4 linked regions of the Homo sapiens genome follow. The protein of the gene in region 1 purifies or fractionates together with the protein of each later gene. This does not show direct contact. Each region holds a gene or a part of one and is shown in the gene's direction. Other genes may lie near its edges.

Evidence for each region.
Region 2: the proteins of SERPINA1 (region 1) and DERL2 purify together in Homo sapiens (affinity purification with western blotting; 3 studies listed by BioGRID). This does not show direct contact.
Region 3: the proteins of SERPINA1 (region 1) and DERL1 purify together in Homo sapiens (affinity purification with western blotting; 4 studies listed by BioGRID). This does not show direct contact.
Region 4: the proteins of SERPINA1 (region 1) and EDEM1 purify together in Homo sapiens (affinity purification with western blotting; 2 studies listed by BioGRID). This does not show direct contact.

Annotation. Positions count from the first base shown.
Region 1 is NC_000014.9:94,378,603-94,385,602, reverse strand, and holds part of SERPINA1 (alpha-1-antitrypsin precursor), read left to right. Parts: intron 1-2,223; exon of another isoform or gene 2,224-2,361; 5' UTR 2,362-2,365; coding exon 2,366-3,011; intron 3,012-4,461; coding exon 4,462-4,732; intron 4,733-5,991; coding exon 5,992-6,139; intron 6,140-6,962; coding exon 6,963-7,000.
Region 2 is NC_000017.11:5,476,152-5,483,186, reverse strand, and holds part of DERL2 (derlin-2), read left to right. Parts: intron 1-304; coding exon 305-378; intron 379-1,797; coding exon 1,798-1,891; intron 1,892-2,044; coding exon of another isoform or gene 2,045-2,086; intron 2,087-2,604; coding exon 2,605-2,800; intron 2,801-3,042; coding exon 3,043-3,133; intron 3,134-5,187; coding exon of another isoform or gene 5,188-5,230; exon of another isoform or gene 5,231-5,338; intron 5,339-7,035.
Region 3 is NC_000008.11:123,018,303-123,025,337, reverse strand, and holds part of DERL1 (derlin-1), read left to right. Parts: intron 1-287; coding exon 288-352; intron 353-1,598; coding exon 1,599-1,625; intron 1,626-2,558; coding exon 2,559-2,654; intron 2,655-3,838; coding exon 3,839-3,891; intron 3,892-6,032; coding exon 6,033-6,143; intron 6,144-7,035. UniProt on the Homo sapiens protein: Functional component of endoplasmic reticulum-associated degradation (ERAD) for misfolded lumenal proteins. Forms homotetramers which encircle a large channel traversing the endoplasmic reticulum (ER) membrane.
Region 4 is NC_000003.12:5,183,823-5,190,711, forward strand, and holds the start of EDEM1 (ER degradation-enhancing alpha-mannosidase-like protein 1), read left to right. Parts: upstream 1-3,884; 5' UTR 3,885-3,983; coding exon 3,984-4,492; intron 4,493-4,498; exon of another isoform or gene 4,499-6,889. UniProt on the Homo sapiens protein: Extracts misfolded glycoproteins, but not glycoproteins undergoing productive folding, from the calnexin cycle.

The DNA of each region.
Region 1 (7,000 bases):
GTAACCCCAGCACTTTGGGAGGCCAAGGCAGGCGGATCAAGAGGTCAGGAGTTCAAGACCTGCCTGGCCAACACGGTGAAACCTCAGCTCTACTAAAAATACAAAAATTAGCCAGGCGTGGTGGCACACGCCTGTAATCCCAGCTATTTGGGAAGCTGAGACAGAAGAATTTCTTGAACCCGGGAGGTGGAGGTTTCAGTGAGCCGAGATCACGCCACTGCACTCCACCCTGGCAGATAAAGCGAGACTCTGTCTCAAAAAAAACCCAAAAACCTATGTTAGTGTACAGAGGGCCCCAGTGAAGTCTTCTCCCAGCCCCACTTTGCACAACTGGGGAGAGTGAGGCCCCAGGACCAGAGGATTCTTGCTAAAGGCCAAGTGGATAGTGATGGCCCTGCCAGGGCTAGAAGCCACAACCTCTGGCCCTGAGGCCACTCAGCATATTTAGTGTCCCCACCCTGCAGAGGCCCAACTCCCTCCTGACCACTGAGCCCTGTAATGATGGGGGAATTTCCATAAGCCATGAAGGACTGCACAAAGTTCAGTTGGGAAGTGAAAGAGAAATTAAAGGGAGATGGAAATATACAGCACTAATTTTAGCACCGTCTTTAGTTCTAACAACACTAGCTAGCTGAAGAAAAATACAAACATGTATTATGTAATGTGTGGTCTGTTCCATTTGGATTACTTAGAGGCACGAGGGCCAGGAGAAAGGTGGTGGAGAGAAACCAGCTTTGCACTTCATTTGTTGCTTTATTGGAAGGAAACTTTTAAAAGTCCAAGGGGGTTGAAGAATCTCAATATTTGTTATTTCCAGCTTTTTTTCTCCAGTTTTTCATTTCCCAAATTCAAGGACACCTTTTTCTTTGTATTTTGTTAAGATGATGGTTTTGGTTTTGTGACTAGTAGTTAACAATGTGGCTGCCGGGCATATTCTCCTCAGCTAGGACCTCAGTTTTCCCATCTGTGAAGACGGCAGGTTCTACCTAGGGGGCTGCAGGCTGGTGGTCCGAAGCCTGGGCATATCTGGAGTAGAAGGATCACTGTGGGGCAGGGCAGGTTCTGTGTTGCTGTGGATGACGTTGACTTTGACCATTGCTCGGCAGAGCCTGCTCTCGCTGGTTCAGCCACAGGCCCCACCACTCCCTATTGTCTCAGCCCCGGGTATGAAACATGTATTCCTCACTGGCCTATCACCTGAAGCCTTTGAATTTGCAACACCTGCCAACCCCTCCCTCAAAAGAGTTGCCCTCTCAGATCCTTTTGATGTAAGGTTTGGTGTTGAGACTTATTTCACTAAATTCTCATACATAAACATCACTTTATGTATGAGGCAAAATGAGGACCAGGGAGATGAATGACTTGTCCTGGCTCATACACCTGGAAAGTGACAGAGTCAGATTAGATCCCAGGTCTATCTGAAGTTAAAAGAGGTGTCTTTTCACTTCCCACCTCCTCCATCTACTTTAAAGCAGCACAAACCCCTGCTTTCAAGGAGAGATGAGCGTCTCTAAAGCCCCTGACAGCAAGAGCCCAGAACTGGGACACCATTAGTGACCCAGACGGCAGGTAAGCTGACTGCAGGAGCATCAGCCTATTCTTGTGTCTGGGACCACAGAGCATTGTGGGGACAGCCCCGTCTCTTGGGAAAAAAACCCTAAGGGCTGAGGATCCTTGTGAGTGTTGGGTGGGAACAGCTCCCAGGAGGTTTAATCACAGCCCCTCCATGCTCTCTAGCTGTTGCCATTGTGCAAGATGCATTTCCCTTCTGTGCAGCAGTTTCCCTGGCCACTAAATAGTGGGATTAGATAGAAGCCCTCCAAGGGCTTCCAGCTTGACATGATTCTTGATTCTGATCTGGCCCGATTCCTGGATAATCGTGGGCAGGCCCATTCCTCTTCTTGTGCCTCATTTTCTTCTTTTGTAAAACAATGGCTGTACCATTTGCATCTTAGGGTCATTGCAGATGTAAGTGTTGCTGTCCAGAGCCTGGGTGCAGGACCTAGATGTAGGATTCTGGTTCTGCTACTTCCTCAGTGACATTGAATAGCTGACCTAATCTCTCTGGCTTTGGTTTCTTCATCTGTAAAAGAAGGATATTAGCATTAGCACCTCACGGGATTGTTACAAGAAAGCAATGAATTAACACATGTGAGCACGGAGAACAGTGCTTGGCATATGGTAAGCACTACGTACATTTTGCTATTCTTCTGATTCTTTCAGTGTTACTGATGTCGGCAAGTACTTGGCACAGGCTGGTTTAATAATCCCTAGGCACTTCCACGTGGTGTCAATCCCTGATCACTGGGAGTCATCATGTGCCTTGACTCGGGGCCTGGCCCCCCCATCTCTGTCTTGCAGGACAATGCCGTCTTCTGTCTCGTGGGGCATCCTCCTGCTGGCAGGCCTGTGCTGCCTGGTCCCTGTCTCCCTGGCTGAGGATCCCCAGGGAGATGCTGCCCAGAAGACAGATACATCCCACCATGATCAGGATCACCCAACCTTCAACAAGATCACCCCCAACCTGGCTGAGTTCGCCTTCAGCCTATACCGCCAGCTGGCACACCAGTCCAACAGCACCAATATCTTCTTCTCCCCAGTGAGCATCGCTACAGCCTTTGCAATGCTCTCCCTGGGGACCAAGGCTGACACTCACGATGAAATCCTGGAGGGCCTGAATTTCAACCTCACGGAGATTCCGGAGGCTCAGATCCATGAAGGCTTCCAGGAACTCCTCCGTACCCTCAACCAGCCAGACAGCCAGCTCCAGCTGACCACCGGCAATGGCCTGTTCCTCAGCGAGGGCCTGAAGCTAGTGGATAAGTTTTTGGAGGATGTTAAAAAGTTGTACCACTCAGAAGCCTTCACTGTCAACTTCGGGGACACCGAAGAGGCCAAGAAACAGATCAACGATTACGTGGAGAAGGGTACTCAAGGGAAAATTGTGGATTTGGTCAAGGAGCTTGACAGAGACACAGTTTTTGCTCTGGTGAATTACATCTTCTTTAAAGGTAAGGTTGCTCAACCAGCCTGAGCTGTTCCCATAGAAACAAGCAAAAATATTCTCAAACCATCAGTTCTTGAACTCTCCTTGGCAATGCATTATGGGCCATAGCAATGCTTTTCAGCGTGGATTCTTCAGTTTTCTACACACAAACACTAAAATGTTTTCCATCATTGAGTAATTTGAGGAAATAATAGATTAAACTGTCAAAACTACTGACAGCTCTGCAGAACTTTTCAGAGCCTTTAATGTCCTTGTGTATACTGTATATGTAGAATATATAATGCTTAGAACTATAGAACAAATTGTAATACACTGCATAAAGGGATAGTTTCATGGAACATACTTTACACGACTCTAGTGTCCCAGAATCAGTATCAGTTTTGCAATCTGAAAGACCTGGGTTCAAATCCTGCCTCTAACACAATTAGCTTTTGACAAAAACAATGCATTCTACCTCTTTGAGGTGCTAATTTCTCATCTTAGCATGGACAAAATACCATTCTTGCTGTCAGGTTTTTTTAGGATTAAACAAATGACAAAGACTGTGGGGATGGTGTGTGGCATACAGCAGGTGATGGACTCTTCTGTATCTCAGGCTGCCTTCCTGCCCCTGAGGGGTTAAAATGCCAGGGTCCTGGGGGCCCCAGGGCATTCTAAGCCAGCTCCCACTGTCCCAGGAAAACAGCATAGGGGAGGGGAGGTGGGAGGCAAGGCCAGGGGCTGCTTCCTCCACTCTGAGGCTCCCTTGCTCTTGAGGCAAAGGAGGGCAGTGGAGAGCAGCCAGGCTGCAGTCAGCACAGCTAAAGTCCTGGCTCTGCTGTGGCCTTAGTGGGGGCCCAGGTCCCTCTCCAGCCCCAGTCTCCTCCTTCTGTCCAATGAGAAAGCTGGGATCAGGGGTCCCTGAGGCCCCTGTCCACTCTGCATGCCTCGATGGTGAAGCTCTGTTGGTATGGCAGAGGGGAGGCTGCTCAGGCATCTGCATTTCCCCTGCCAATCTAGAGGATGAGGAAAGCTCTCAGGAATAGTAAGCAGAATGTTTGCCCTGGATGAATAACTGAGCTGCCAATTAACAAGGGGCAGGGAGCCTTAGACAGAAGGTACCAAATATGCCTGATGCTCCAACATTTTATTTGTAATATCCAAGACACCCTCAAATAAACATATGATTCCAATAAAAATGCACAGCCACGATGGCATCTCTTAGCCTGACATCGCCACGATGTAGAAATTCTGCATCTTCCTCTAGTTTTGAATTATCCCCACACAATCTTTTTCGGCAGCTTGGATGGTCAGTTTCAGCACCTTTTACAGATGATGAAGCTGAGCCTCGAGGGATGTGTGTCGTCAAGGGGGCTCAGGGCTTCTCAGGGAGGGGACTCATGGTTTCTTTATTCTGCTACACTCTTCCAAACCTTCACTCACCCCTGGTGATGCCCACCTTCCCCTCTCTCCAGGCAAATGGGAGAGACCCTTTGAAGTCAAGGACACCGAGGAAGAGGACTTCCACGTGGACCAGGTGACCACCGTGAAGGTGCCTATGATGAAGCGTTTAGGCATGTTTAACATCCAGCACTGTAAGAAGCTGTCCAGCTGGGTGCTGCTGATGAAATACCTGGGCAATGCCACCGCCATCTTCTTCCTGCCTGATGAGGGGAAACTACAGCACCTGGAAAATGAACTCACCCACGATATCATCACCAAGTTCCTGGAAAATGAAGACAGAAGGTGATTCCCCAACCTGAGGGTGACCAAGAAGCTGCCCACACCTCTTAGCCATGTTGGGACTGAGGCCCATCAGGACTGGCCAGAGGGCTGAGGAGGGTGAACCCCACATCCCTGGGTCACTGCTACTCTGTATAAACTTGGCTTCCAGAATGAGGCCACCACTGAGTTCAGGCAGCGCCATCCATGCTCCATGAGGAGGACAGTACCCAGGGGTGAGGAGGTAAAGGTCTCGTCCCTGGGGACTTCCCACTCCAGTGTGGACACTGTCCCTTCCCAATATCCAGTGCCCAGGGCAGGGACAGCAGCACCACCACACGTTCTGGCAGAACCAAAAAGGAACAGATGGGCTTCCTGGCAAAGGCAGCAGTGGAGTGTGGAGTTCAAGGGTAGAATGTCCCTGGGGGGACGGGGGAAGAGCCTGTGTGGCAAGGCCCAGAAAAGCAAGGTTCGGAATTGGAACAGCCAGGCCATGTTCGCAGAAGGCTTGCGTTTCTCTGTCACTTTATCGGTGCTGTTAGATTGGGTGTCCTGTAGTAAGTGATACTTAAACATGAGCCACACATTAGTGTATGTGTGTGCATTCGTGATTATGCCCATGCCCTGCTGATCTAGTTCGTTTTGTACACTGTAAAACCAAGATGAAAATACAAAAGGTGTCGGGTTCATAATAGGAATCGAGGCTGGAATTTCTCTGTTCCATGCCAGCACCTCCTGAGGTCTCTGCTCCAGGGGTTGAGAAAGAACAAAGAGGCTGAGAGGGTAACGGATCAGAGAGCCCAGAGCCAAGCTGCCCGCTCACACCAGACCCTGCTCAGGGTGGCATTGTCTCCCCATGGAAAACCAGAGAGGAGCACTCAGCCTGGTGTGGTCACTCTTCTCTTATCCACTAAACGGTTGTCACTGGGCACTGCCACCAGCCCCGTGTTTCTCTGGGTGTAGGGCCCTGGGGATGTTACAGGCTGGGGGCCAGGTGACCCAACACTACAGGGCAAGATGAGACAGGCTTCCAGGACACCTAGAATATCAGAGGAGGTGGCATTTCAAGCTTTTGTGATTCATTCGATGTTAACATTCTTTGACTCAATGTAGAAGAGCTAAAAGTAGAACAAACCAAAGCCGAGTTCCCATCTTAGTGTGGGTGGAGGACACAGGAGTAAGTGGCAGAAATAATCAGAAAAGAAAACACTTGCACTGTGGTGGGTCCCAGAAGAACAAGAGGAATGCTGTGCCATGCCTTGAATTTCTTTTCTGCACGACAGGTCTGCCAGCTTACATTTACCCAAACTGTCCATTACTGGAACCTATGATCTGAAGAGCGTCCTGGGTCAACTGGGCATCACTAAGGTCTTCAGCAATGGGGCTGACCTCTCCGGGGTCACAGAGGAGGCACCCCTGAAGCTCTCCAAGGTGAGATCACCCTGACGACCTTGTTGCACCCTGGTATCTGTAGGGAAGAATGTGTGGGGGCTGCAGCTCTGTCCTGAGGCTGAGGAAGGGGCCGAGGGAAACAAATGAAGACCCAGGCTGAGCTCCTGAAGATGCCCGTGATTCACTGACACGGGACGTGGTCAAACAGCAAAGCCAGGCAGGGGACTGCTGTGCAGCTGGCACTTTCGGGGCCTCCCTTGAGGTTGTGTCACTGACCCTGAATTTCAACTTTGCCCAAGACCTTCTAGACATTGGGCCTTGATTTATCCATACTGACACAGAAAGGTTTGGGCTAAGTTGTTTCAAAGGAATTTCTGACTCCTTCGATCTGTGAGATTTGGTGTCTGAATTAATGAATGATTTCAGCTAAAGATGACACTTATTTTGGAAAACTAAAGGCGACCAATGAACAACTGCAGTTCCATGAATGGCTGCATTATCTTGGGGTCTGGGCACTGTGAAGGTCACTGCCAGGGTCCGTGTCCTCAAGGAGCTTCAAGCCGTGTACTAGAAAGGAGAGAGCCCTGGAGGCAGACGTGGAGTGACGATGCTCTTCCCTGTTCTGAGTTGTGGGTGCACCTGAGCAGGGGGAGAGGCGCTTGTCAGGAAGATGGACAGAGGGGAGCCAGCCCCATCAGCCAAAGCCTTGAGGAGGAGCAAGGCCTATGTGACAGGGAGGGAGAGGATGTGCAGGGCCAGGGCCGTCCAGGGGGAGTGAGCGCTTCCTGGGAGGTGTCCACGTGAGCCTTGCTCGAGGCCTGGGATCAGCCTTACAACGTGTCTCTGCTTCTCTCCCCTCCAGGCCGTGCATAAGGCTGTGCTGACCATCGACGAGAAAGG
Region 2 (7,035 bases), on another chromosome or scaffold:
TCTGCCGATTAACCTAGTCTTTCCAGCAAACTTTCTCCATACGACGATCACAATTTAAAATTTTCTTTCCTATTATTATAAATGTCACAGTCCCAATGATGTCTTTCAGACTTTGAACTAAAAGCAGCAAAAAAAATCTAACATCAGATTATATGCCCCCGTTTTTGTTTCAGAACAGAGTATCACTCTGTCCAAGGCTTCTCAACCACCGCAGTCATAGGATGTTTCTTTTGTATTAATATGGAACTGTTTCCTGGTAATTTATTTTACTTAATACATCTTTCTCTTGATTTTTTTTTAACAGATATGGAGATTAATCACCAACTTCTTATTTTTTGGGCCAGTTGGATTCAATTTTTTATTTAACATGATTTTTCTGTATCCTTTATTAAATGGGGTCAGCATCAAAACTTTTTCTTAGGAAGTAAAAAATTAAGTTGAAACTTTTCATCCTGTTACTTGTTTTTGGTACCATCTTAGCTATGATTTCTGGGTCAGTGGTACATAAAGTAGTTGCTTAGGTAGTAATGTTTTGAAAATGTCTGTAGGTCACTTTGTTCAAATGGGAGGTTTTAACCATAAAAAGATAGCACTTCTGCTCTTTTGTTACTTACAAATCTGATCAAGGGAGGGGAGAATTGATTTAACTGAGGCATACCTCCACAGTAACCAACAGGTTCGAAGCCGTAAAACAACCTGAATGCAATGGTAATTCAGCAGAATTTGGGCATAAGTTTTGGAATGGGTTCATGAGGAGTGGGAACCTGAGATCTCCTTGGGTCCTGGTTGCTGGAACTACTGGCTGAAAGACAGTGGTTGTGTCTGCTGGGCTTGTCAAGTTCCGGTTTGTTGAAAGGAAAACCCCAGCTCTGATCCAATGGTAATTGGGGCCACAGAGCAGGGCATTCCTCTTCCACCCCTGCCCTCTGTATTAAGAGGGAGTTACAGTTCAACTCATCTGCAGCTGCATTCCTTCCTGAGGATGGCAGGAATCCATTTTATATCCTATGTAGGATATCATTCTGATAAGTTTCCATTAAAGTTTTTTCTCATCGTAATTCATCTTTATTGACTGAGGTGCTCAACCTGCCAGGCTGGAAAAGTAGTTGAGCACACAAGGCTTCTTGCTGCGGATTTCTTCCAAGTTAGGATGTGGGAAAGCAAAGATGGTGCATATTAAGGTGTGGCTGAGCACAGGAAAGACAATACAAATTTTTAAAGGTTTAATAGGGGACTGGAGGGCCGGGTGTGGTGGCTCACACCTGTAATCCCAGCACTTGGGGAGGCCAAGGCAGTGGATCACGAGGTCAGGAGTTTGAGACCAGCCTGGCCAACATGGTGAAACCTGCTCTCTACTAAAAATACAAAAAATAGCCTGGCATGGTGGCACACAACTGTAATCCCAGCTACTCAGGAGAATGAGGCAGGAGAATCGCTTGAATCTGAGAGGCGGAGCTTGCAGTGAGCCGATATGGCACCATTGCACTCCATCCTAGGTGACAGAGCGAGACTCTGTCTCAAAAGAAAAAAAAAAAAGAATAGGGGACTGAAAGCATGTCTGTGTGTCATCTGGATTAGTTCCCAGCCAGGGACAGTTTGTAAAAAATGATGCTGGTCTTGACCTTTTCTCAAATGCTTGGTAAAAAAGTAATCACATTACCACTCAAACATTCTTATACAAATGAAGACTTGACTAATTACAAATAATATGGAATCCAAGTGTACTTACAAGATAACATTAAATTTTTACTTTGTTCATATTCGTGTGCTTAATATTTTCTTAACTTGGAACTTAAGATATCGTTACTGTCGAATGCTAGAAGAAGGCTCTTTCCGAGGTCGGACAGCAGACTTTGTATTTATGTTCCTTTTTGGTGGATTCTTAATGACCGTATCCTTCAACAAACAACACGGGAAAATGTTGAAGAACACCCTGGCTCTTCCTAAAGCTTGTCATCTGTCTCCCACAGTTCTCTAGATCTTAGCTTCAGGGCACTATCATTTATTTTACAGCACATTTTCTGTGACAAGTTTCCAAACCTAGCAGTCGGACAGGATGAGCAAGTCAAAGGAACTTTTAACCCAGGTGGGTTACTGTTAAGCAACTCAGTTATATCATTACTGCTTGGCGTACTTCACTTTTAAACTAAGTTGGTAAGACATTTACTTGGTGGCTACCAAAACCAATAAATTATTTTTTCAGAAAAAGAATTTTCATCTATACAATAGACTTAGATATGGTACGGTCTGACAAGATGGTTTTGTTCCAGCTAGCTTTATTCATCTCTGTAAAGGTGCTAATCGTGAGCAAGCTTTAATATAATTATTGACTGAAGAATTAACACATTTTCCAAAGAGGCAAGAACTTCACGAAAGCAGAGTATTTGTTTGAAGTAGCTGTAAATCTCGATAATTTAGCCTAAGCAGATTTTTGCCTGATTGCTCTGGGTAATTATTTTCTGGGTGTTTCTCCTTCTATTCTAAAGATGTAACAACTTGACTTTTCCAATTCAAACTTCTGTTAGAACACAATCTTTAGTTCTCCTGCTCAGTCTTTCCTATTAAACTTTTAATGTTGATATTTTCCTTAATGCCATCTGCTAGCTTTTTGGTCTGTTTGTGAGCTTAGTTTTCTTGGGCCAGGCCTTTACAATAATGCTCGTCTATGTGTGGAGCCGAAGGAACCCCTATGTCCGCATGAACTTCTTCGGCCTTCTCAACTTCCAGGCCCCCTTTCTGCCCTGGGTGCTCATGGGATTTTCCTTGTTGTTGGGGAACTCAATCATTGTGGACCTTTTGGGTAAGGCTCTTCTCACTATTTTTTAAATTATTTTACCTGTAAAAGTATTTTGTTACTATTTTTCATGTTTATTCTGTTTGGCCTTCACGTATTACCTATTGTAAAATACCACAATATTAGTTCATTAATTTTTAATAATTATGTTGACATTCATCCTAAATATAGGCAATTTGTGTTGGTAGGTCTACCTGCAATCTAAATTTTAATTCTCTCCCTCATCCTTTATTTCTGCTTGACTCTAGGTATTGCAGTTGGACACATATATTTTTTCTTGGAAGATGTATTTCCCAATCAACCTGGTGGAATAAGAATTCTGAAAACACCATCTATTTTGTGAGTATTTAACACCAGGTTACATACTCTTACAGGCAAACCAGGACAGGGGCATGATCTGTGTTTTCTTTGGCTCCCCTAGCTCCTAGTACACATAGCTCAGGTCAGTAACCATTTGCAGATTGAGCATTCTGGCTACAGTTGAAGAGCACTTGGACTGGGTAGGAGCAGACAGTGCCAGGGTTGTGGCAAGACCAACGTCAACAGGCTCAAGATATCTTGGGAGTAACCTGGTAATTGTTAGAGATGACCACTAGAACTTCTATTCTGGTAGGAGCCTGCTGGTTTTATGAAAGCTGCTGTCCACGTTTAGTGAAGTAAGGTAGCAAAATGGGCAAAACTGATGAAAGTTTCTGATGGTGGACTTTGTGGCCTGCCAAGCAGGTGGTTGAGATAAGCAGTGAAGCAGAGTGGAAATAGCTTTGGACTGGAAACCAGGTGTAGCTGTCCCACTGACCAGCCATAGAGCAAGTCCTTTCTTTTTTGCACTTCAGTTTCCTGAGATAGAACTTTGATTTCTTTCTTTCTTTTTTTTTTTTTTTTTTTTTTTTTTTTTTACATGGAGTCTCACTCTGTTACCTAGGCTGGAGTGCAGTAGAACTTTGATTTATGAGACCTCTTTCTACTCTGGAATTTGGTATCCTTGGGAGATGCCATATTAAAAAGGGCTCAATTGAGAAGTAAAATGTGAGTTTTTGTTATAAAATGTTTGTTGTAGAATAGTAAGCAAAAAAGAAGAAAGTGAAATTGTCCACTATCCCGACACTTGGGTATAGCAGTGGCCACCATTGTTAACTTTTCAATGTGTATTCTTCAGTCTTTGTGTACTTTTTAAAAAACGCTGAGCCAGGCAAGGCTGCATACACTATGATTGCGCCTGTGAACAGCCACTGCTCTTCTTGGGCTAGGCCTTTAACATAGCCACTGCATTCCAGCCTGGACAACATAACACATTCCTGTAATCCCAGCACTTTGAGAGGTGAAGGCAGACGGATCACTTGAACTCAGGAGTTTGACACCAGCCTGGGCAACATGGCAAAACCCCATCTCTACAAAAAATCCCAAAATCAGCTGCATATGGTGGCATGTACTTGTAATCCCAGCTACTCGAGAGGTTGAGGTGGAAGGATTGCTTGAGCCCAGAGGGTTGAGACTGCAGTGAGCCGAGATCGCACCACTGCACTTCGGGCTGGGGGACAGAGTGGCACCCTGTCTCAAAAAACAATTTTTGTAACCTTGTAAACTTAGTATGCCATAATTGTTTTTTCCACCCTGAAGTGTTATAAAATTATAACAGGTGATATTCCATGGTATGGATATGGTGTAATTATACTAATCCCTTGTTGATGGACATTGACGTTAGTGCTTGGTTTTCTCTTCTGTAATTGGAGTGGTGAATGTCCTTGTAGCTAAATCTCTGCACACATCCATGATTATTTTCAAAAGATAATTCCTAGAAGTAGAATTCCTATTTTGTTGCCAAACGCCTTCCAGAATGGATGTTCAGGTTTACATTTCAACTAGCATTTATAACTGTTCATTTCCCCACATCCTAATCAAACAAGGAAGGCATTTTATTTACCCTTTCCTAGTTGAATAGTTGTAGGATGATGTCTCATTGTTTATGATTTTTAAAAAATGTTTTGAAACAATTTCAGTCCTACAAGAAATTACATATGCAGTACAGGTCTCACTCCATTGCCCAGGCTGGAGTGCAGTGGTATGATCATAGCACACTGTTAACTCAAGCCCCTGGGCTCAAGTGATCCTCCCACCTCAGCCTCCTGAGTAGCTGGGACTACAGGTGCACACCACCAAGCTCTGCTTATTTTCTTTCTTAAATGTTTTTTTTTGTGGAGACAAGGTCTCTCTATGTTGCCCAGGCTAGTCTCGAACTCCAGTCCTCAGGTGATCCTCTTGTCTCTTGGCCTCCCAAAGCACTGAGATTACAGGTGTGAGCCACTACACCCCACTTTTTATTTTTTTATTTTTTTGCAATTGTTTTCTGGCACAACAAGATATACCAGGCTCATCCTGTGCTCTCCTTGATCCAGTCCTAGAATCAGCTGTTTCTTCAAGGAGCCCTGGTTCCTTTAAAGTGGAGAATGGTATTTAGAAGCCAAGATCTGGGTGCTAGATGTGCTCATTGCTATTGGAGTGTTGCTATTCCCAGATCCTCTCAGTGAACAGAGCAATGGAATTATATGTATGTATGTATGATAATGTATACATGTGTATATTTTTAGATCTATGTATTTTTTAAAACATGGGTTTATACTATACTCCCATTTCTAGTACTACCTCATGGTTCATTCTAGCTTTTTTCCTATTGGTTTCCTCCAATATTTTATTATGAAAATTAACAAACTTATAGGAAATCAGAAAAAAATTGGAGTGAGCTTCATGTAGCCACCACATAGATTCTGTAATTAATAGTTCCCTATTCTTATTGCACACCTATCCCTACATCTAGCTTTCCAATCCAAAATGTATGTGCCATTATATGTATACTTAATTCCTTGTATACTTGAGTGTGCATATCAGTAACTAGAGTTTAGTATTTATGTGCAACAAAATACACAAATCTTGAGTGTGTCAACTGAGTTTTTATAAATGCACACATCTGTGTATCTATCAAGACAGAAAATTACCATCAACCAGAAAGTTCCCTGATGTCCTTCCCTGTCAATCATTGTACCTGTCCCCCAAGAAGCAATTGCTATTCTGGTTTTGTTCCTCTGTAGATTAGTTTTTCATGTTCTACAACTTCATGAGTAGAATTGTACAGTATGCATGTACTCTTTGGTATAAGGCTTCTTTCATTCAACATAATGTTTTTGAGACTCATCTGTGTTCTTGTATTTATTGGTAATTTGTTCCTTTTTATTGCTGAATATTATTTGGTTGTATGAATGTACCACTCCTTTCCATCTGCCCTTTCCATCTGTCCTAACCTGATTCTTATTATGATTAATGTTTTACCTACCTAATTACCCCTCATATGTAACCAGTCTTTCGGGATAGTCTCCACCTCTCCCATATGGATGCCTTGCTTATCTCACTCACCCTCAGATTCCCCAGACCAGGCTGCCCTCTTACAGGGATGCCTCCCCATCCTACTCGGGCTAACATCTCGTCAGGCCACCTCCATGTGTGCATGGTCTGATGGGGCTCTTGACTCCCTATACCAGGCTGTGCCCCCACCCCCATCCTGCTAATGTTTGGGCAGTAGAAGGGATCTCAGTTTTGTTTTTGTTGTCGTTGCTGTTTTTTGAAACGGATTCTTGCTCTGTCACCCAGGCTTGAGTGCAGTGGCTCAATCTCGGCTCACTGCAACCTCCGCCTCCTGGGTTCAAGCGATTCTCCTGCGTCAGCCTCCCTAGTAGCTGGGATCATAGGCATGCGCCACCACACCCGGCTAATTTTGTATTTTTAGTAGAGATAGGGTTTTGCCATGTTGGTCAGGCTGGTCTTGAACTCCTGACCTCAGGTGATCCACCCTCCTCGGCCTCCCAAAGTGCTGGGATTACAGGCATGAGCCACCACACCTGCCGGGATCTCAGTTTCTAATATACTTTCCTTTGATTATTGTGAGAGCAAACATTCTCACGTTTATTGACCACATGGATTTCCTTTTTGAATTGCATATTCAGCCCTTTGCCCATTTTTTCTGTTGGTATGTTTGTTTTTATTGTTAATTTGTAAGAATTTTAAAAACTCATTTTGAATTATACTATTTTCTGACTCCAGTATAAATCAGAAGTTTTCAGATACATTTCTAATTTTATCAACTGTGGAGGATTACAAGTAGAAATATAAGTGCAAATTGAGGATGCTGCTTTAATGGTTCCTTCTTTAGTGAGGTTTTGAATTACTACATCATAGTACTTAGGGAGTCTTTT
Region 3 (7,035 bases), on another chromosome or scaffold:
TGACTGTACTTTCTCTGGGTCTGTTTTAGCCTGTGGTAGTCAGAGCATGTCACTTACTGGAATTCAGTTAGGAGAGCATAGATTAACCTTACTCAGGTAACTTTGATTCAGGGCTTTATTGGGGACGTTGTTTAGATATTTTTAAAAATTCACTTTTTTAGAGAGGAGTGGTTTTTAAAATGTTCTCATTTTGGCTTTTTCTGTAACTTTTTGAAGTGTTTCTCTATGTAGATGTTACTTTGTTGTGAAATTCTGAACCATGACATTTGGCTTGTTTTTGTTTCCAGGAGCTTTTGATGGGAGGCCAGCAGACTATTTATTCATGCTCCTCTTTAACTGGATTTGCATCGTGGTATCCTTCAGTCTGTGATTTTGGGCCAGAAATAAACCAGTTTTTTTCCAGGTTTGGGGAAATAGACCATATTCTGTAAACGTTTCAAATTACAATATTTGCATCTTGGTTGACTACCGTTAATAAGAATAATTATAGTTTTTTAAAAAAAACTGTAGTAAATCATATAGCCCTTGAGTGATGCATTCTCTTACCATTTGTGGGATTTTTTTCCACCTTTGGTTGAGTAGTTTTATGACTGTTCCCTCTTCTTGTTCCCAGTTCTCTGTGTTCTCATGTGTGACAGCTTGTTGACTGAGGCACAAAGAGAGTCCGTGCCATGAGACAGCTTTTGAAATCTGTGGTCCTTATCAGAAAATTAATTTACAACCAGCATCCTTTTCTGACTTCATTGCTGTCCTTCTCTTGGGGTCCTACATAGTAATTCAGTCCCTCTGTGAAGTACCCAGCTCTGGGAAGGGACACAGTACGTTTCTCTGCTTTGTATCAATAGCAGTTGTCAGCAGCCCTCCAACTGCAGGACTCTTACAGATGGTGAGAGCAGCAGCAGCTCTCGATGTCTCAGGTCCTGTGCAAAATTGGTGAGCTCAAAATTGCCTTTGGGCTCAGCTGCCATTTAAACTTGGCTGAGGGCCAGAAAATGTGGCACTGTGGATGCCCTTTCCCCCCTCCTTTGAGGGAAGGAAAAAATATTTTGGACTTTAACCATGCTATAGAGTCCTGAGAATGTAAGTAGAATGATTATTTCCTTCAAAGGCTACAGGCATCTTCATCCTTTATTTGAAGGAGAGATGTTAAAATGCAATAGCAGAGAAAAAGGATGCCAGATGACCAGACTAAGTCATATGCGGAAGCTGTTGATTTCTACTATGTCCTTGTCATGGTATCGTCTAATGGAATATGCATAATGAAGATTAGATACCTTTGTGTTGTAGAATGTTTTAAGCAATCTGAACTATAGAAAAGTATTTTCCTTCAGAACACTGGAATTAACTTAAAAATTTTTTTAATTAAAAAAATATGTATATAAATTAGAGATGGGGTCTTGCTATGTTGCCCAGGCTGGTCTGGAGCTCCTGGCCTCAAGCAGTCCTCCCATCTTGGCCTTCCAAAGTACAGAGATTACAAGCATGAGCCAAATTACACCTGGCCAAGTGAACTTTTAAATGGGAGGAAAATAACCACATCAGTCTTGACTAGGTACAGAATGCTTTTTTATGTCTGATCTTTAACTTTACAAACCAAGATTACTGGCTTAGCAATGGATATGCAGGTAAGTGTCCATTTAAACTATCTATTTGCCCTTTTATTTGTTTCAAATATACTATTAGTGGCCTTTGTCAGAAGTTGAAATTGCATTAACTATGGGGTTAATTATGTGGTATTTTGAAATTATGGAATTACAGCTGTTTTATTTATTTATTTATTTATGAGATGGAGTCTTGCTGTGTTGCTCAGGCTGGAGTGCAGTGGCTTGATCTTGGCTCACTGCAACCTCCGCCTCCCGGGTTCAAGTGATTTTCCTGCCTCAGCTTCCCGTGTAGCTGGGATTATAGATGCACGCCACCACACCCGGCTAATTTTTGTATTTTTAGTAGAGATGGGGTTTCACCATGTCACCAGGCTGGTCTTGAACTCCTGACCTCATGATCCGCCTGCCTCGGCCTCCCAAAGTGCTGGGATTACAGGCATGAGCCACCGTGCCTGGCCTATAGCTGTTTTATTTTGAGGATCTTAAGTCAGCTAAATCTTTGAAGATCTTACATGAGCTATCTAAATCATTGCTTTCCTTGCTCATTTCTGGCCTCTTTTTGGTGTTTGAACATTGACAATAATGGTTGTCTAGTATTTTCTAGGCATGTGACAACAGTGGTTGTCTAGTATTTTCTAGGCATGTATATGGATGTTTTTTAAAAATTGAGATTATATGGTAATGCTTTGTTGCTTACTTTTTGTAAATAACAGAGCTTGACTCTTACATTTCTGAATCCATCTAAAATAATATAGTTTTGTTGTATTTTATTATAGGATTTTGTAATATTTATTGTATGATAAATAATAGGATCAATTTATAATTCTGATCAGTTGAGTTTCCCTTTACCCAGGTGAGGATTGTTGTGAAGAGGAGGGGTAAAAAGCATAGTAGATGTACACCTTTTTTAAGTGCCTCTGGAGCCTGGTTTTTACATGTCGACTTCTTTTGCAGTTGCTGATGATTCCTCTGATCATGTCAGTACTTTATGTCTGGGCCCAGCTGAACAGAGACATGATTGTATCATTTTGGTTTGGAACACGATTTAAGGTACTTTGCCTTGGTTGGAAAAGTGTCCTTTTCATTTGTCTGCAGAAATCCCTCTTCAGTCCAGAGATGTACTTTCTGACTCATCCAGAAGGGGTCACTGCAGAGCAGTGTACCATAGGCAAGCCCCTTTCTGCCCTCCTCAATCCCAGCTCTATTTAATTAGCCAGCCTGGAGTCCGTTGCTGGCCTTTGTTTCTTCACTCCCTCTGTACCTCGGGCCCCTCAAGGTTATGTCCCTGAGTGATCTTATGTGTCTGTGTTAGAGAGAAGGAGAGATAACTCATGTGAAACCCTGCTTTAAAAATCTGTTCTTATCCCTCCCTCGTTCCCTGTTATTTGCTTTATACTGTAGCTGAAACAGATTGTTTTTGCCCCCAAACACTTCTCTTTGTACATTCTTTCACAATTTTCCACCTGTAACATCTTGATTCTCTTCTTTGTATAAATCCTACCCATTCTTAATTTGAGTTGGAACTGAACATATTTCCTGAATCTCCTGCCTAGAATTAGTCTTACGTTTGGGCTTTTTCAATACTTTGTGTTTCTCTTTAGTACTTAGCACATGTAGCTGTAAAGTTATTTGAGTATAACCCTCTCTTTCCTAGTTTGTGAAGTTTCTTGCAACTCCTTTAGCTCTTGGTATGATGTCTTGGATTTGGTAAGGGGCTCAAATGTTGAGTTCATCTGGAGAGCTTTCTTATTTGGGAGAGTATTAGTTTAAGATATCAATGCATAATGAGATAAAAATTCAGAGGAATTTTGCAAGATATGTAAAAGAAGAACCTAAAAAGATGGGGTATGTTTATTTTATTTGTAGCAATTTGTTGGCTGGAATCTTAGTGTGATTCTCTCATGGGCCTTGCTTTTAGTAGCATCTGTAGGACACTCATCTGCTTTTTGAAGCTGTCTGTTTATAGCAGTTCAGCAGGGCCTGTATTGCATCAGACCTGTGGGCAAAGTACTGTGTCCTTCCAGTTACAAATACACAATTAAGTCTAGTTTTAGATAGGAAGGTTTAAGTATAGTGGGAATAATGCTAGATTGATCCTAGAAATTTTGCAGTGACCTTCCAGAGGATTTATATAAAGCCCTTGTCAGTGTATCCTTACCCACTTTAGTCCCCGTAGTAGCTGTGTCCTCGTCAGGTGTGGCTACTCACATTTGCATATATTCATTCCATCCTAGGCCTGCTATTTACCCTGGGTTATCCTTGGATTCAACTATATCATCGGAGGCTCGTAAGTGATATTAGATTTATTTAATTGGAAACTAATCCTTGGAAAATTTCCATTAGTTTTTATCTTTCTCTAACCTTTATACAACTTTAAAGAATCTCAACATTGACGCATTAGAACCCTATATTTATGGAATAATTTCACTTCGATTGAATTGATTAGATTGCAGGGCTTTAAGCATATTTAACCTTGAATGGTTGTGATTTTGTTAACTTATTGTTACACACAGTATGTTCCTATGTGTATAGTACAGGAATAAATATGTATTTCTGGATTCACTATTCTGATTGGGCAAACAGAGACCTAATTTTTGTCTGAGTTGGCTCCTCTAAGAGCTATGTATAAAATTACTATGTCTTATATTCTTAAGGCATTTCCAGAATGCCTTGGAAACTGCCTATCGGTCATAGAAATCCAGATTCTTAGATAGGATATAATTTTGCAAGTGGTTTGATGATACAGAACTTTTTTTTTTTTTTTTTTGAGACGAAGTTTCACTTTTGTTGCCCAGGCTGGAGTGCAATGGTGCGATCTTGGCTCATTGTAACCTCTGCCTCATGGGTTCAAGCAATTCTCCTACCTCAGCCTCCCGAGTAGCTGGGATTACAGGCGCCCGCCTCCATGCCCGGCTATTTTTTTTTTTTTTTTTTTTTGGGATTTTTAGTAGAGATGGGGTTTTGCCATGTTTGCCAGGCTGGTCTCAAACTCCTGACCTCAAATGATCTGCCTGCCTTGGCCTCCTAAAGTGCTGGGATTTCAGGCATGAGCCACCATGCCTGGATGATAATACAGAACTTTTGGCCAACCAGGGTCAAATATCTAGTCTATTGGTCAGGAATTAGAGCTAGACATAGGAATAGCTTTAATTTATCCAGTCAGAATTTTAAAGGGAGGATACCAAGATGCAACTTCTCTAAGAACTCCCATTTCTTCATTTTTTCTGTTTATTTATTTACTTATTTATTTTTTCAAGATGGGGTCTGGCTCTGTCACCGAGGTTGGAGTGCAGTGGCGTGATCTTGGCTCACTGCAACCTCTGCTTCCCAGGTTCAAGCAATTCTCATGCCTCAGCTTCCCGAGTAGATGGGATTACAGGTGTGCACCACCACACCCAGCTAATTTTTGTATTTTTTGTAGAGATGAGGTTTCGCTGTGTTGCCCAGGCTGGTCTCAAACTTCTGACCTCAAATGATCCGCTCACCTTGGCCTCCCAAAGTGCTGGGATTGCAGGCATGAGCCACTGCACCCAGCCAGAACTCCCATTTCTTATACTACAAACTACTTTTAATATTTCAATCCATTTTTATATTGCTGGTTCTTCATGTGTCTGACATATTTGCTCTGTGTGATCCTAACTTCTTCTGCATATTGCTGGGGAGAAGTGAATGGATGGAGCAGACTGTTTAGAGCAAAGCATGTTCTGAACTTGGCAAAGCTGCTCTTCCACCCAGGAAGGTGAAGTCTGAAGTAGTTGCAGGTGTTGATTTGCCCCTGACGGGAATCATGTTGCAGGTGAAGACAAAGAGGATTTGTAATAGTAACAGTAGATCTATACACTCTTGAGGTGACCTGTATGTAAGCCAAGGGAAAACTGAAGAAGGTCAGCGTTGATTTCAGGGTGCAAGTCGGCTTTCCTAAGTGATCTCTGTGGTGTCTTACACTCAAGGATACAAGAGGCAAGGGAGAAGTGCTTAATGGCTCCAGGAAAGGGGGAACAGGCATTTATTGTTCCTCTTTTCCTTACTCCCACGCTTCTCTCTTGGTAGCCTTCATGTTTGCCCACATTTTATAAATACAATATTCATGACTGAAAGCATTCAGAAGCATGCTTTGCAACTTCCCCAACTCTTGAGGCAGGAAGTAGCAAAAACAATATTTTGAGGATGGGCTGGTGCTTGAAAGAGAGGTCAGAGGGGCTGCTGGCCTTGAAGAGTGGCAGGCCTCATTGGTTCAGCAGGACTGATTTCCCGTCTCCCTCAGAATGCATTTGCCACTCAGACTACAAAAGTGCTCATTGTCAGCTCTCACAGACTCCCAGGGACTAAATGGGCTGCCTTGAAGGCTCTCTTCCTTATGCTATTAGTTAAAACTTGGTGCATCTCTATTGCTTGAATGTCTTTAAACTCATTTGGCTCTCTTTGCAGGGTAATCAATGAGCTTATTGGAAATCTGGTTGGACATCTTTATTTTTTCCTAATGTTCAGATACCCAATGGACTTGGGAGGAAGAAATTTTCTATCCACACCTCAGTTTTTGTAAGTGTTTTTGTCCTGTCTCATCTAACATTTTACTGCCTGTGTTCTTAGTGCATCCTAATGAGAGCTCCATGAGGAGTATGATTTACCCCTATGCCCCATCTGCTGGAGAAACCTGAGGCAACAAGTGACTTACCCTAGTCACACAGTCACAGGAAGTTAGGGATTAAAGCTTAGGCTCAGTTGCCTTCCTGTTACTCTTTTAGCCAGGGACCACTGACAACTAGATTCCAACATTACAGGAGGCATCTCAGCTCTCTGAGCCTGCTGAGGGACCTGATGCAACTCCAGAGTGCGAAACAGTAGGCTGGTGAATGGGCAGAGTCACAGGTTAGTGGGGTGTCTTTTCTTGGCCCATCAGTTTTTACCCATGATTTTGCCCAAGGAAGGGTAAGTTAGCGTGTTGGTCAGCAATTTTAAACATTTTTATATTAAATACTATGGAGTAGACATTTTACAGGACTGTTCAGAGTTAAAATGAGAGACTTGAGGTTTGTATAGGCCCAACCCCCTGGGAGTTTGTGCTCTTTATCTGCTTTTAGGGTTTACTGAAGTGGGCTGGTAAGGGCAACAGCTTTGATTTTTGAGACAAACTTGGATTTGAATCCCAGTCCCCTCAGATAGCAGTTTTTATACTGGGAAAGTTACTTAATCAAACCTCCAAGCTTCAGTTTGCAAGCCTGTAAATTGTGGGAGAAGCCCCTGTCTCACAGGACTGCATGAGGTAAGATACACTGTTGGGAAGCACAGTAGCGGGTTCTCGGTAAGTAAAGCTAGCTGCCATATTCCTAAAGGTGGGGGTAGGAGAGCAGGATTTTGACGATCTGAGAGGAGACGCGCACACACCCAGAAGCATGTAATAGTCGTGTGACCGTTCTGTCAGTGAGGCAAA
Region 4 (6,889 bases), on another chromosome or scaffold:
CACTGCAACGTCCGCCTCCTGGGTTCAAGCAATTCTCCTACCTCAGCCTCCCAAGTAGCTGGGACTACGGGCATGTGCCACTATGCCAAGCTGATTTTTGTAGTTTTAGTGCAGATGGGGTTTCACCATGTTGGCCAGGCTAGTCTTGAACTCTGACCTCAAGTGATCCACCCGCCTCAGCCTCCCAAAGTGCTGGGATTACCGGCGTGAGCCACCGCGCCTGGCGACTTGTGCTAACGTTAAACCAAAATTATGGGGGGTCATTGTTTGTGGACTGAGTTTCTGCACTAGGTCCTAGCAGACCAAAGTAGTTACATATATTAAGTGCCACACAGTTACATGGAAACTTTACAGACCAGTTTTTCCTGAAAACAGAAAATCCCAGTCTGTCTGAATCAGAATAATAAGGAAGTCCCTTCTTCTTTAACCCTTAAAAAAAAAGTAACCCGATGTTAACCAATCAGTTATTTTTCATTGTTTTGTTTCCTTGCTCTCATCTTACAAAACCCACTATTCTGCTGTTTCTCATTGGGAGCTTTCATTCTGTTTTGTAGAATGGAGGCTGCCCCATTCATAAGTTATGAATAAACGCCAGTTAGATCTGTAAGTAAATTTGTTGTAATTTTTTTCTGACACTAGGAATTGCCAAATGACCCTTCACACGGGAAGTACTAGTTTTTGTTTTTACCAGTCCCAGTCCCCTATGCCTTTTTAAAAAAGAGATGAAGTCTCACTGTTACCCAGGTAATTGCATTGGCTATTTACAGCCACGATCATAGGAAACGCAGCTTCAAACTACTGGCTCAGGGGATCTTCCTGCCTCAGCCTCTCGAGTATCCTGTATCTTGCTAACAGAGCATGTTGACAAACTTGGATTTGTGCCCATCAAATAAGTTTGAACTGTAATTATATACTTTTTTTTAGGCCTTCAGCTTTGCAAAACCTCTGCTTTTGAAATACTTTTTTTTTTTTGAGACGCAGTCTCACTCTCTTGCCCAGAATGGAGTGTGGTGGCGCTATCTCAGCTCACTGCAACCTCTGCCTCCTGGATTCAAGTGATTCTCGTGCCTCAGCCTCCTGAGTATCTGGGATTACAGACGCCCACCACCACGCCCGGGTAGTTGTATTTTTAGTAGAGATGGGGTTTCATCATTTTGGCCAGGTTGGTCTTGAACTCCGGACCTTAAGTGATCTGCCTGCCTTGGCCTCCCAAAGTTCTGGGATTACAGGTGTGAGCCACCACGCCCAGCCGGGTGCTAGTTTTAAAAGTTTCAGAGTTGAAAAGTATTAATAGGTCTCACTATGTAGCACGGTTGTAAGTACTTTATATATATATATGATGTAATCACAACTGTGATAAACATTGTCCTCATCACTCACCCATTTTATGGATGAGGAAACAAGTCCTAGAAAAGTAACTTCCCAAGGTCACTCTTAGGGCAGAGCTACGATTTGAACACCTGACTTCTGAATGTGAGTTCTTAGTTGTCATCTCTTTGCATTCCCCAGAGTAAAGCCATTTTTACACTGAAAAAGTGCCTCCTTTCCTTTTTTATCAGTCCCTGATGCGCTTGTGAGATTACCGGAAAACCTGTCACAAATCAAACTGTTTATCTTAAAGAGTTGATTTTCAAGACTGGAGTTTTCTGATTGGGTATGGGTGTTGTCCCAATCTTATCAGTACATTTAGCTTAAGGAGAGTCCTAATCGAAAGGACTAGCACAAAATAACCCATTTCTTTCATTTCAGTTTCATTCCAGAAGGAAACACTTTCTGAACCTAGACCCTAATGCCTAGGCTATGCCTTGCAGGGCACTAATGTCAAAACTATTGCTTTTGGGTGGCTTGGAAAGAGCAGAGGGACCTGTCTGCTCAAGGGCCAGCTATTTGAAGTGCAAATTGCCCTAAAGTGTAGTAACTCCCTTTCTGCCTAGAGCCAACAGGCTCTGAGAATTGAGCCCCCAACCTGATTTCTTCCATTATGGCTTGTGGAATAAGCTTTACAGTTTTCTATGAAGATTAAATAAGCACACATGTCAAAGTGTTTTGAAAACCATCAGTTTTACTATGAAAAGCATCTTTCAGGAGTTGGATGGTTTTCTCTGGTTATTAAAAGATTTATTTTTATAAGAGTTTTTCTCTAACATCAAGACAGAAGCTGTCCTCAATGTGGCCTGCAGTTAACCAGGTCAAATTTAAGTTAAAATTTGCAATAAAGTAGCCCCGGAAGGAAACATGCAACATGCAACTGAATATTCACATTCAGTTTGCAAGTTCCAGGAAGGCAGAAGTTCAGGATCAAGGGCTGGAGCTGGGCTGCCAGCACAGTCCCTAGGCATCCTTCACAGAGGGGAAAAAGCAGAAGCTGTGTAGTCTAAAGACCCTGGCTCAAGCTGTCTTCGTAATCTTTTTGCTGCTTGGGCTGCTCTCGATGTCTCAATGTTGGGAAAGAACAAGGCTCAGCCAACAGTAAGGACCTTCCTATGTGCCAGCTACCATGTGCTGTAATCAAGTGTTTTCTTAGTTCCCCTTACACCTCCTCTGTATTTCAGAAAGTCCTCTACCCTGAAAATGTGATGAGAGTGCCACATGACAACTTACCTTCTTATGCACTCCATTGGTCGGCCATTCAGCCAATATCAGATTTGGGGGTCTAGTCAGGTCTTGCTTCCCAAGCTTTTCAGAAACCCTGATGAAACAGGCATAGGGTCTAAACTTAGGGAGGGCAAAACTTACAGCCAACTCCAAATGCAGCAAGCAAAATAAATAAGCGCCTAAACCATTGAATCTTTATGTGAAAGCCATAGCCCTTTAGAGCTAACATTTGCAATCTTCTTAATTATAGGAAGTAGATACAGAGGGGTAAAGTTATTTAACTGGGAATCTACCCCACACCTCAAAGGTTAGGTCACTAATTGCGGGTGCACAGGAGAGATGGTAGGATGGGAGGGACAGGAGAAGACATGTTTAGATATATCTGGTAAATAATTTGGTGGTGGTGGGAGCCTTCATTCCCACCCCCAACCCGCCCCCCCCTTTTAAAAAAATCCTATTTCCGAGACAAAAGCAATATAACATAACTTTGTATTTCCTGAAACTTCCAGTTTCTAAGAACTGTCCAAGAGTACTTACACGCACATTCCCGAGACCGTTGGAGTTGTTCGATAGGTCTAGGGAGGGATCTGGGGATACGTGTTTTACAAGCACCATGAGCGATTCTTCAAAGTTGGGTGTTTGAATCAAAAGAGCAGAATTCATGATACCGTTTTGTGCACTCCTTGAGCTAAAAGGTAGTATCCCACCCTCTCCATAAACAGACACCTAAGTTATAAAACTTATGCGCTCGATATGCAAAAATAGCTCGTTTTATACAGAAACGATCCTTTCCTTCTTTTCCTTATATATCTTTTAACTGTCATCACTCCTAACCTAGACCTAGAGTGGCTTTTTCCGGTCCTAGCTCTGCCGGACACACGCTCTGCCCAGAGACCCGATCCACCCAAGGCCAGGCGGTCTGGGGTCACGTCTGTGTCCAGCGTCCGGCGGGCGCTGCCGTGCCGCTCTCCCATTGGCTGGAAGTTCCCTCGCGGGCCGGCGCGGCTCCTGCTCGCCACGCCAGCCCATCGGGCTACGGACCGCCCAGGGGGGCGGGGCTTGGGAGTTGGGGCGGGGCCCGGGTGAGGGGCGGGGCCTCGGGGCGTCGCGGACGTCCTGGCGGCCTACTGCGTGGGAGGGAGTCCTGGGCCGCGCCCCGCGAGGCCGGGCCCAGGCCGGGCCAATCCCGGGCCACTGGGCGGGCGACCGTGGGGCCTGGCCGGCCCGCCGGAGAGCCTGGGGGTTGGGGACGATGGGCTAGTTCCTGGTGCGTCACGGGGGAGTTCCTTAAAGGGGAAGCGAGCCGGGCTACGGGGCGAGCGCGGGGTGCGGTGGTCGGCGGGGAGGCCCCCGCGCTTTAAAATAATGCCCGCGGCGCCCGCGCGACCATGCAATGGCGAGCGCTCGTCCTGGGGCTGGTGCTCCTCCGGCTTGGCCTCCATGGAGTATTGTGGCTCGTCTTCGGGCTGGGGCCCAGCATGGGCTTCTACCAGCGCTTTCCGCTCAGCTTCGGCTTCCAGCGTCTGAGGAGCCCCGACGGCCCCGCGTCGCCCACCTCGGGGCCCGTGGGCCGGCCTGGGGGGGTATCCGGGCCGTCGTGGCTGCAGCCGCCGGGGACCGGGGCAGCGCAGAGCCCGCGCAAGGCTCCGCGGCGTCCTGGGCCGGGGATGTGCGGCCCAGCCAACTGGGGCTACGTGCTGGGCGGCCGGGGCCGCGGCCCGGACGAGTACGAGAAGCGCTACAGCGGCGCCTTCCCTCCGCAGCTGCGTGCCCAGATGCGCGACCTGGCACGGGGCATGTTCGTCTTTGGCTACGACAACTACATGGCTCACGCCTTCCCCCAGGACGAGCTCAACCCCATCCACTGCCGCGGCCGTGGGCCCGACCGCGGGGACCCGTGAGTAGCCCCCGCCGCCCGGGGCCGCGCGCCCACGCGCTTCCTTCCGCCCTCCGCGCCGGGGTGCAGCCCTCTGTCCTCCGGGGCCCCCGAGGGCGCCAGGGCCGTTAGGGTCCCGGGCAGCGCTCCCGCGCCCTGTCCCGTGTGAGTCCCTGTGAAGACCCCCGAGCTTGAGGGTGCGGGGTGGGCCGGTGGCCTTCCTCTCCTGATTCTCCCGGAATCTCCAAACTTCAGAACTGCTGTCCAGCTCAGTGTCTTACGCGTGAGGATACTGAGGTCCAGGACCAGAAGGGACAGTGGCAGTGCCAAGGGCTGGCTTGGAGGGCTTTCCACTTCCATCCGACCCCTTCCTCCGGATGAGCATAAACTCTAAATGAAATCTCCATCATGCCCCCCGTGTAAACGCAGCCTCAGAACAAGCCTTTACCTCGCACCCCCACCTCTATCACATTGCCACACCCACGTCTTTTCTATGTAAAAAGCCTATAGTTGACTTCTCCAAAGCCGTCCATTGAGTTTGAGGCAGAACGGGGTTACAGCCTCTCCTTCACAGGGGCTGCTTCTTAGGCTGAGGATAGTTAGGTGGTGGGGAGGGAAGCTATGTGGCCCACTTTTGGGGTCCAGATACTTGAGGTGAAATTCACTGGATGCCAGATTGACTGTCAACGTCATCGCCCTGTACGATCTGTCTATAAATCCCCCGCCTCTGGTGGCGTGGTTGTCCGGGAAGGTCAGGCAGTCTTCCCTGTTCACCAGCCTTGTTTGCAAAGGCTGAGCTCCAAGGGTCACCACTGTTGACATCAAAGTCCAAGAGGGCAGTACACCCAGCTAAGGACCTCTTACCTGTAGGGAAGGAATGTGCATTGCCATAGACCCTGTTAGTCCAAATAGTTGACTCCCCTCCCCTGGATGGGAGTGGAGGAGTTGGTTTGCTCAGTGTCTTGGCACCGTCTGGGGCAAGCATTTTCCTTCACCTGGAGGAAAGCAGTGGAGTCCAGTCCTTAGGTTCTGATAAGGAAGCCTATAGACTAAACGGAGTTGGGTTTTTAAAATGGTGTGGTTATTTACACATTTATGTTTTAAATTGCAGTTTGAGAGCATGATTTCTACCGAAGCAAGGGGACATCCCAAGCTAAATTCAAAGGACTGAGCCTTTTCAAAATTCTAGGAAACCGATGAGTTTTTCTTGCTTAACCATAGCGTTTATACGTATAAGTGTATTTTCTATCTCAATTTTTTTGAGAAAAAATATTAAATTTTGAAAAAAAAGTATTTGGCCTTTCCAGATTTTTTGTTTGTTTTTTGAGACGGAGTCTCGCTTTGTCGCCCAGGCTGGAGTGCAGTGGCGCGATCTCCGCTCACTGCAACCTCCGCCTCTGTGGTTAAAGTGATTCTCCTGCCTCAGCCTCCCGAGTAGCTGGGACTACAGACTCGTGCCACCACGCCCGGCTAATTTTTTGTATTTTTAGTAGAGACGGGGTTTCACCGTATTAGCCAGGATGGTCTCATCTCCTGACCTCGTGATCCACCCGCCTGGGCCTCCCAAAGTGCTGGGATTACAGGCGTGAGCCACCGCTCCCGGCCATGGTCTTTCCAGATTTTAAGAAATGAATGAATTATTTGGCTCACTTAACTAGAGGGGACTTTATACCTATAAATGTATTTTCTTTCTTAGTTTTTTTTTTGGGGGGGGGGATAAACTTCATTTAATTGTGGTCTTTTTTTTGTTGTCAGCCTACATCATGCTTTGATGTTTTTTCTTTTTAAATCAACATCATTAAAGTTTGAAAAATATCATAAAATCCCACCAGCTATTTTAAATTTATTTTTGCCACTAGTTCCTACCCATATGTCTATGCATGTTTTACATAGTTGCAATCATAGTATGTGTACATATTTTGGATCTTAATTTGTGCTTTTCCACTAGTGCTCTTGGTATTACAAGAAGGGAGAGAGCACTTCCAATAAGTGCCTTTATTCCTGCTCACAGACTGTTTCTCAGATTACCTTTTATCAGGTGGACTGAAGTTGAAAACAGTTTAACGGGGAATTGTGATAACACTTTCATTTGAGAATATGACGGTTTGGAGAGTGAGTTGATGACATTTTAATGTTTTTCTTAATGAACCTTAAAAGCGCTTCTGGAGAACCTTAAGAATCCCTTCCCAGCAAAGTGAGGTGGTGGTTGATTTAACTTGCTGGTCTTTGTGGTATCATGTGTGCTGTTGGCCTTTATTTCAGGATGAAGGCTGCCGATGAGTGTTTTGGTTTGGTTATGCATTGGTTTGGTTATGCGTAAGTTAAGGTCAGGTTGCTTTGAGACAGATGTGTTATTGGAAAGAGGGTTTTAGAAGTATTGAGGAGGTGGGGATGGCATTAGGGAAGGGTTGTGCCCTG